2 linked regions of the Homo sapiens genome follow. The protein of the gene in region 2 interacts with the protein of the main gene of each other region in a pairwise test. Each region holds a gene or a part of one and is shown on either strand. Other genes may lie near its edges.

Region 1 (4,517 bases), on a different chromosome or scaffold from region 2:
CAGAACGTCTTCTTACTTTTTATTACTCTGTCCCCCATCCTGGGTCCAGACCTGTGACCGTGAACAACCGGCTGCCCAGGGGTGAATGGGGTGAGTGGGGTGAGTCCACAGAACAGTGGGGTGCAGCCCCAGGGGTCTCGTAGCACCTGCCCCCATGTCAGGAAGTCCCACAGCCTAGAGGCTCCAGCCTCAGATGCATACATATGTAGGCCCTGCCCTTTCCTCCTGAGCGGCGGGCCACAGAGTCCTGAACAACAGGAAGCCCCTGAGGAGGGCTCCGCCCTGAGGGAGGGCAGGGGAGCCCCCGCCAGCCCCACCCACAGCAGCGGGCCCTGCCACCCCCCACCCTGACACCTCACCCCTTGGATTCCAGAGAGGAAAGTGGGCTTGTGTGTAGTTTACATGCTCATATCTTAAAATCACTGTTGTCAATAGAACAATTCATAATCATGATGATAAAATAAGATTTATAACCAGCTTCAGTCTGGAGATACACACAGAGCAGATCTTCACTCCCAGACAGGGAGCCCGCAGCTGCCCCCGACCCCACAGGTGCAGGACACACACAGACAGTTCAACCATGTCTTAAACACACAGGTGTTTATTTAATTGTTCATTTGATTGAATTTTTAAGTTCACTTTACTACGTGGATGAGATGGGTGCATATTACAGTAGGCTTTCGCTATGAGCGCTGCCACCATGAGGAATATCCCAGCCCTCAGTTCTGCTTCCCTTTCTGAGTCCCACAAAAGCCAGATGTGGACAGCCTTGGGTTCCCATCCCAGCTGGCTGCTCCTTCTGGGGCTGTCTTGGTGGGGAGAGGGAGATGGGGCAGTGGGTCCCTGCTGACCCCTGAGCCCTGCAGGGGTCAGGATCCTCCCGTGGTCCCTGGGTGTGACTCTGGAAGACACTGGCAGTGCCCGGCCAAGGCCTCCCGCAGGATGGAAGTTGAGGGCCCTGGCTCTGGGTCCTAAGAGAACTCAGCCGCCCCCTTCACACTTTACAGCAAGGGGCCAGGCAGCAGCTTTGGGATGGGGCTTCCGTGGAGAAGTGGGGGATGCTGCAGTGGTACAAAGACAGCCTCCCCCACCGCCATCCTCCAGCTGACCGTCCTCCAAGGCCAGCACTGGGCGTCCAAGGGAAAGAAGGAACTCAGCCCAGAGGGTGTGGGCAGGAGAGGCCTGGAGTCAGGCCTCCACCCACAGCCCCCTCTGGGTGCCAAGTGGGAAGGGTGTTGGGGCTGGCTTGGGAACCTTACCCGCTGCCCTTCCAACACCTGGATCTGTGGGCAGCGGTCCCACAAAATCCCCCTTGGGGCTCCCTGAGGAGGACTTGTGGCTGCCGCTTCCACCAGGGCAGAGGGCACAGGAGGGGCCAGCACTCCAAAGGGCTCTAGGGTGGGTCTTTCAAGGACATCTGCAAAGCCCTGGTGGGGAGGGGCCTGGGCCAGAGGCTCTTTGGAACTCTTGCACTTCTGAGTGGGGGACTGTCCATGCTGCCCACAACCTCTAGACCATGCAGCCTGCTCATGGGTCCCTGGCAGAGAATGCCCACTCCCCAGCAGACTCAGGGCAGGCCCCCAACTGCAGGCTTCCAGGAAGGCCCAGGGTGTCCACCTCACGCCAGGTGGTCTCAGAGGACCCCTGTGCAACCACATTAAGGAAAGCTGCAGCCCCCACCCACCCGCCTGCCAGTTCAACAAGCACCGGCTGCACACGCAGGCTCCCAGGCACCATCACCCCCCTCCCCCGTCGCCCCTCCCTCATGGGGAGCCCCTTCCCCCTGGAAAGACAGCAGGTACTGTAGCCTCGCCTGCTGGCCAGGGGCGCCGGCTCAGAGGACCTGCCCTGACCTGCACGTGCTGACCAGACAGCCCAGCGTAAGGACCCGTGATCCCACGCCACCGCCCTGGGTTTACCACGGTCACCGCCACCTCTCTCACAGGGCCCCCGGGGGACCCAGCCGCGCCCGGCCTGGTGTCTGCACCGAGGGACCGCGTCTCACGCCCGGCGGCTCCTGCAGGGGAAGCCGTGGTCAGCGACTCACCACGAGGACAGGGCAGGGCGGCTGAGTGCGGAAGAGAAGCATGAAGCTGGGGGCGGGGGTGGGGGAGGAGGAACAAAAGTTGCATCTAGACAGAGGTGAACGAAACAAAACCAAAACCCGAACGTGTTCTGTCGCAGGATGGGCGCCGCCCGTCCCGGGCCCTTAGCCCGACATCTCTTCTCGCTGCTCCTTGTTCCTGCGCACCTCGGCCGCGTGCAGCTCCTGCAGGACAGGGGGCGGGAGGGCCTGAGGGCGGGGGTGGCTTGGGGCGACTCCGGGAACCCCCAGGCGCGCAGGCCGTGGCGCCCTGGCACCCGCCCGGCCTCATCCGGGCTGGCCTTCGGCAGGACCCTGACTGAGTTGAGGGGGCGGGAGCACCGGGGAGGCGCAGAGCAAGGCCAGGGACCAAGGACGGGTTTCCTGGGAGCTGGCTGGGCCCCGCTTCTAGCTCGTACCGGAGCCGAGCTTCCTTCAGGGCACTTTCAATATAATGAATTTAGCCATCTATTACTGCGGCTAGTTACTGTCCCGCCAGGACCAGACTCTGGACCTGCCTCGTGCGCTGCTGGGGACGCCCAGTAAACACGGGAGGAGCCCCCGACCCCCACCCCAGCTCAGCGCCTCGGAGTCCCCGGCCCCGCTCTGCGCCCCTCCGAGCTCCGCCCTAGCCCCGCCCCCGCCCAGTGCCCCGCCCCCTGCCTGCTGCTAGCCCTGCCCCCGCCCCGGCCCCTGCCCGCTCCGAGCTCCGCCCCGGCCCCGCCCCGGCCCCTGCCCGCTCCGAGCTCCGCCCTGGCCCCGCCCCCGCCCAGTGCCCCGCCCCCTGACTGCTGCTAGCCCTGCCCCCGCCCCGGCCCCTGCCCGCTCCGAGCTTCGCCCCGGCCCCGCCCCGGCCCCTGCCCGCTCCGAGCTCCGCCCCGGCCCCGCCCCCGCACCTTCTCGCGCAGCCGCTCGCGCAGTGCGGCCAGGTGTGCCTCGCGGATCTCCTTGCTGAGCTCCATCTTGTAGTTGAGCTTCTCCTCCGCCTGGCGGCTGAAGTTGTTATTCTCCTCCAGCGCCTTGTGCAGCACCTCGCGCTCGTGCTCGCGCCGCTCCGCCAGCTGCTTCAGCACCTGCGCCTCCTGCGTCTGTGCGGGGCCGGCGGGCGCGCGTGAGCGGCAACCCCGGGCCCTGCCCGGCCGGACTCCTCCCTGCTCTCCGCCTCCCGCCCAGCGCCCGCTCGCCTCACCTGGCGCCTCCACCTGCCCAGGCCTCGGTGGGCGCCGGGACCCCCGGGCGCTGCCCTGGGAACCCTCGCCTGCCATCCGGCCTGTGGTCGGGGCAGGGCCAGGGGGTCGCGATCCGCCGCCCCCGCCCCCGTCCCTGCCTCGCGCGCGGGTCCCGCGGTCCTGGCTGCGCCCAGGGCCCCCGCCATACCCTGCCGCCACTGCACACCCTGCCCTGCGCGTCTGCCCCTCCAAGGACCAGCAGCAAGAAACCCTAAACTTGTGGGCGGTCTCTGAGCTTTGTCTCTTCCTCGGACATCCGCCCACTGAGCAGAGTAGCTGCTTGTTACACACCGGGTTCCCAGCTCCCAATTAGGTGCCCAGGAGCGGAGGGTCCCCAGGGATGCTGGGGGAGGGGCCGGCTGGTGACCCCTGGGAGGAGAGCGGGGCAGCAGGACCCGCACCCACATGCCAGTCCCTACTAGTCAGCCCTGTGAACCCTGGTCTCTGGCCTCACCGGGAAGGGAACGGAGCCGCTTCCCCTGCCCAATGCGTTGGCCTCCAGGGTGGCACCCCCAAAAGGACATTTTTATCTCTGTTTCAGTCTCAGAGGGGCTGGTGGGAGGGGAGGCTGCAGGGAGGGGACCTGGAGCCCACACCCACCTCTCCCAGGGCCCCTCCGCCCTCCAGCAAGCCTCAGGGTCTTCACACATGAGGCCCTTCCTCCAGCTTCCCTGTCTGGGAGAGGGATGCCCCACCCGACGTCCCCAGGGCCCATCTGGGGACCACCCCCTAGCATCCTGCTGGCCCTGACAAGGGTGCCTCCCACCCTCACCAGAGGCTCCTGCTCCTTCCAGGTGGCCGCCTCGGAACCCTTCCTCCTCTCCATCCCTTTCTTTTTTTGTTCTTGTTTGTTTTTTGAAATGGAGTCTCACCCTGTCGCCCGGGCTGAGGAGTGCAGTGGCGCAGTCTCGGCTCACTGCATCCTCCACTTCTTGGGTTCAAGCAATTCCCCTGCCTCAGACTCCCTAGTAGGTGGGATTACAGGTGTGCACCACCACACCTGGCTAATTTTGTATTTTTAGTACAGATGGGGTTTCACCATGTTGGCCAGGCTGATCTTGAACTTCCAACCTCAAGTGATCTGCCTGCCTCAGCTTCCCAAAGTTCTGGGATTACAGGCGTGAGCCACCACACCCGGCCTCTCCCCATCCCATTCTTATCTCTCAGAAAGAGGCCCAGGGAGCCACAGCCCCTCCTGCTCCAGG
Region 2 (3,804 bases):
AGATCTGTTGATGAATACTGTAGGAGTCAGGAAAAATACACCTTACTGCAATAAACATCTTCAAAGTTAAAATGGATTTGCTCCATTGCTTTTTATAGCAAAGGCTGGCAAAGAGTATATTACAAAATGATCTCACGTGTGATTACAACTTATAATCAAAGATCAGTTAAATACCTCAGATGGGGGGCGGGGGTGTTCCTGAAGTCTATTTCCTCAAGTAATGTTAAAGTGAATGGCCTTAGATTTTGGACACTACTTTAATTTTGTACTTCCAAATGCTTAGGAAATGTTGCATTGGATTCCAGAAAGTCTCAGGAGGCTGTTTCCGTGATCTTACCTTTCCATCACCATCTCTTATCCTTTTCCCCAACCTTGCGTCCCTGACCCCCTGCTTTCCCTTTCTACCCAGGAGTTCATGCACTGGCAGGGTGCTATAGTTAGGGTGAACAAAGGACCATTTTTCCTAGTTCATGTCTGTTGTTCTAGCATAATTAATAACACCCCTTTCAATCTCAAGAGTGTTCTAAGTATATAAACACCTTAACTACTATGGAAAGGGCCTGAGATTTGGAGTCAAAAGACTGGGTTCAAGCTTTAGTTCTGCCCTTAAAATTGCATAATCTTAGGGCAAGTTATTTACCCTCTCTGAATCTTGTTTTCTTTCTCTGAAAATGGAAATGATATCAAATTTCCAAGTTTACTGTAAGTATTAAAAAGAAGTAAAATCAATCGGTACATAGTTATTTTATCCATAAGAAACCAGAGCCAAGCAATTGGCCCTCTCTTGAATATTGTTACCTTGCCAACTTGGAAGCAGTCATCCCCTGTGAGAGAAAAGAGCCGTTTGGGGCTGTACAGGTCAGTGATGGCAGAGCCAGTGACTCTCTGAAAGACACCTCGGGCCAGGCCTTTCACATTGAGCATGTACACGTCCTGCAGCCGCATCAGGGCCCTTGCTGCTCCCTCAAGGTCCTCAAAGGCTGGAAGGTCTTGCTCCACCTTCTCATAGCCATCCTTCAGAGCTGTAAAAGTAGTAAAAACATCAACCCAGCATTCAAGAAACAGGAGTTGGGCATTTAATACATGTAAGGCATGACCACCTGTTCAAATATTTAATGACATCAAGTTGGATTTGTCTTTGTGTTCCCAGAGGCAAGCACAGTTCCTGGCACAGGGTGGATGCTTAATGCAATTCTGAATGAGGAACATTCAGAATGAGTGAATGAGGAATAAAAATTAAGGCATACAGCTTCATTATATTGTCCTATCCTGTATGTTTACAGGAGTCTCACTCTTTAGGGAGACAACTCTTCTTTTTCTTTTTCTTTTTTTCTTTTTCTTTTCTTTTCTTTTTTTCTCTTCTCTCCTCTTTTCTTTCTTTTCTTTCTTTCTTTTAATAGAGATAGGATCTTGTTCTGTTGCCTAGGCTGGAGCACACTGGCATGATCATAGCTCACTATAATCTTGAATTCCTGGGCTCAAGTGAGCCTCTCACCTCAGCCTTCTGAGTAGGCAGGACTTCAGGCACACGCCATCACATCCATCTAATTTAAATAAATTTTTTTGTAGAGACAGGGTCTTGCTATGTTGCCCAGGCTGGTCTCAAACTTCTGGCCTCAAGTGATCCTTCCAACTCAAGCTCCCAAAGTGTTGAGATTATTGGCATGAGCAACCACACCCAGACTCTTCTCACTGTTAGCTTTCCAAAAATCAACAAACTTCTTTTTTTTTTTTTTTTTTTTGAGACAGGGTCTTGCTCAGTCGCCCAGGCTAGAGAGCAGTGGCGCAATCTCAGCTCACTGCAACCTCCACCTTCTGGGTTCAAGCAATTCTTGTGCCTCAGCTTCCCAAGTCTACAGGCATGCGCCACCATGCCTGGCTAATTTTTGTTATTTTTAATAGGTTTCGCTATATTGCCCAGGCTAGTCTCGAACTCCTGAGCTCAAGCAATCTTAGCCTCCCAAAGTGCTGGGATTACAGGCATGAACCACTGTGCCCAGCCCAAAAGTCAACACTTTTTTTTTTTTTGAGACAAAGTCTCGCTCTGTCACCCCAGGCTGGAGTGCAGTGGTGCGATCTTGGCTCACTGCAACCTCTGCCTCCCGGATTCAAGCAATTCTCCTGCCTCAGCTCCCGAGTAGCTGGGATTACAGGCATGTAATCCCACGACTCCCCGGTAATTTTTGTATTTTTGATAGCGACAGGGTTTCACTATGTTGGTTAGGCTGGTCTGGAACTCCTGACCTCAAGTGATCAGCCCACCTCAGCCTCCCAAAGTGCTGCAATACAGGTGTGAGCCACCGCGCCTGGCCGTCAACAAACTTCTTACAGCACAAAGTAGAATAAATTAGGAAAGTGATCTTGCTATAGATGACACTGTAGTGACAATTTAATGAAACAGAAACTACTAGAAGACCGTTATTTTCTATACATATATAAATGGAAGGCTTGTACTTTGTCACAGGATTGTAGTGAACATCAAATGAGACAATTGATATGAAAGTGCTTTCTAAGGTATAATCATATAAACTGATTAGCAAGCGGGCCTAATTCTTTGTGCTAGCTAGAGCTAAGGATATTAAGTAATACCCACCTACTCCATTACCCTTTGAAATCACATCCCAACAGAATCTCTCTCCTTACCACCGAGTCAGGAGATAGAATCTTCTCTCTTACCCTCCAGCCCTCCTCCTCATTACCTCGGATGTTCTCACTGGCCTCCAGACTATGTACCACATTCCTCCAGTCAGACTGCAGGCGTTTGATGAGAGTAAATGCAAGCAGAGGGTTAGCCACAGGGGTTGTTGAATCCTCATGCAAAGAAAGTACCTTGTCGTAGAATCTGAAAGAAAGGAGTAGAATGATCTCACCTCCTGATACAACCACTACACCTAGGGAAGGCTGGCATGGTGTGTGTACATTAAGAGTAGCTAACACTGACATGCTGAACCTCTTGAGATTCACATAATAGTCCAACCAAAAAGCCATGCAAGCCCAAAGAATATGAAAACTATAGATACAACAAAAGTAGGTCCACTCTTTTGTTCACTGAATGAGTCAGTCTATATTAATCAATTACTGTATTTCAGGCACCATGCTAGAGATATAAAGGCAAGACAGGGTCCAGCTCTCAAAGGGATCACAAAGTCTTTTTCTCCTGTCATCACTGTATATGCAATACTTAGTATCTGGTAGAAACTCAAAAACACTATTGAATTAATTATAACCACTGTGATATGTGCTATATAGTGGTCCCCAACCTTTTTGGCACCAGGGACTAGTTTCATGGAAAACAATTTTTTCCACGGACCGGGGGGTTGGGGGATGGTTTCGGGATGAAACTGTTCCACCTCAGATCATCAGGTACCAGTTAGATTCCTATAAGGAGCACACAACCTAGATCCCTCACATGTGCAGTTCACAATAAGGTTCACGCTCCTATGAGAATCTAATGCCGTGGCTGATCTGACAGGAGGTGGAGCTCAAAGAGTAATGCTCCCTTGCCCACCACTCACCTCCTGCTGGGGGGCCCGCCTCCTAACAGGCCATGGACTGGTACCGGTCCCTGGCCCAGGGGTTGGGGACCTCTCTGCTATGAGAGAAGTGAGCATATAATGCTGCAGCTGTGCAGGCAGGGCAGCTCATCCAGGTGGGAGTTAGAAGGGGGAAGGAAAGGCTTCCAAGAAGAGATGGCATGTGATCTGAATCTTGAATGATTTGTTAAAATACTGAAAGCTATTACTTATTGAGCTCCTACCATGTATTGGCCTGTTGGGTGCTCTAAATAGATTGTCTCATTTAATT

What was found.
Region 1: the proteins of P4HA3 (region 2) and STMN3 interact in binary tests that used the Homo sapiens proteins (3 or more experiments, as listed by UniProt).

What each region holds. Positions count from the first base shown.
Region 1 is NC_000020.11:63,639,129-63,643,645, forward strand, and holds the end of STMN3 (stathmin-3), read right to left. Parts: intron 3,172-4,517; coding exon 2,980-3,171; intron 2,270-2,979; coding exon 2,210-2,269; 3' UTR 584-2,209; downstream 1-583. UniProt on the Homo sapiens protein: Exhibits microtubule-destabilizing activity, which is antagonized by STAT3.
Region 2 is NC_000011.10:74,301,571-74,305,374, forward strand, and holds part of P4HA3 (prolyl 4-hydroxylase subunit alpha-3 isoform 1 precursor), read right to left. Parts: intron 2,843-3,804; coding exon 2,700-2,842; intron 1,023-2,699; coding exon 799-1,022; intron 1-798. UniProt on the Homo sapiens protein: Catalyzes the post-translational formation of 4-hydroxyproline in -Xaa-Pro-Gly- sequences in collagens and other proteins.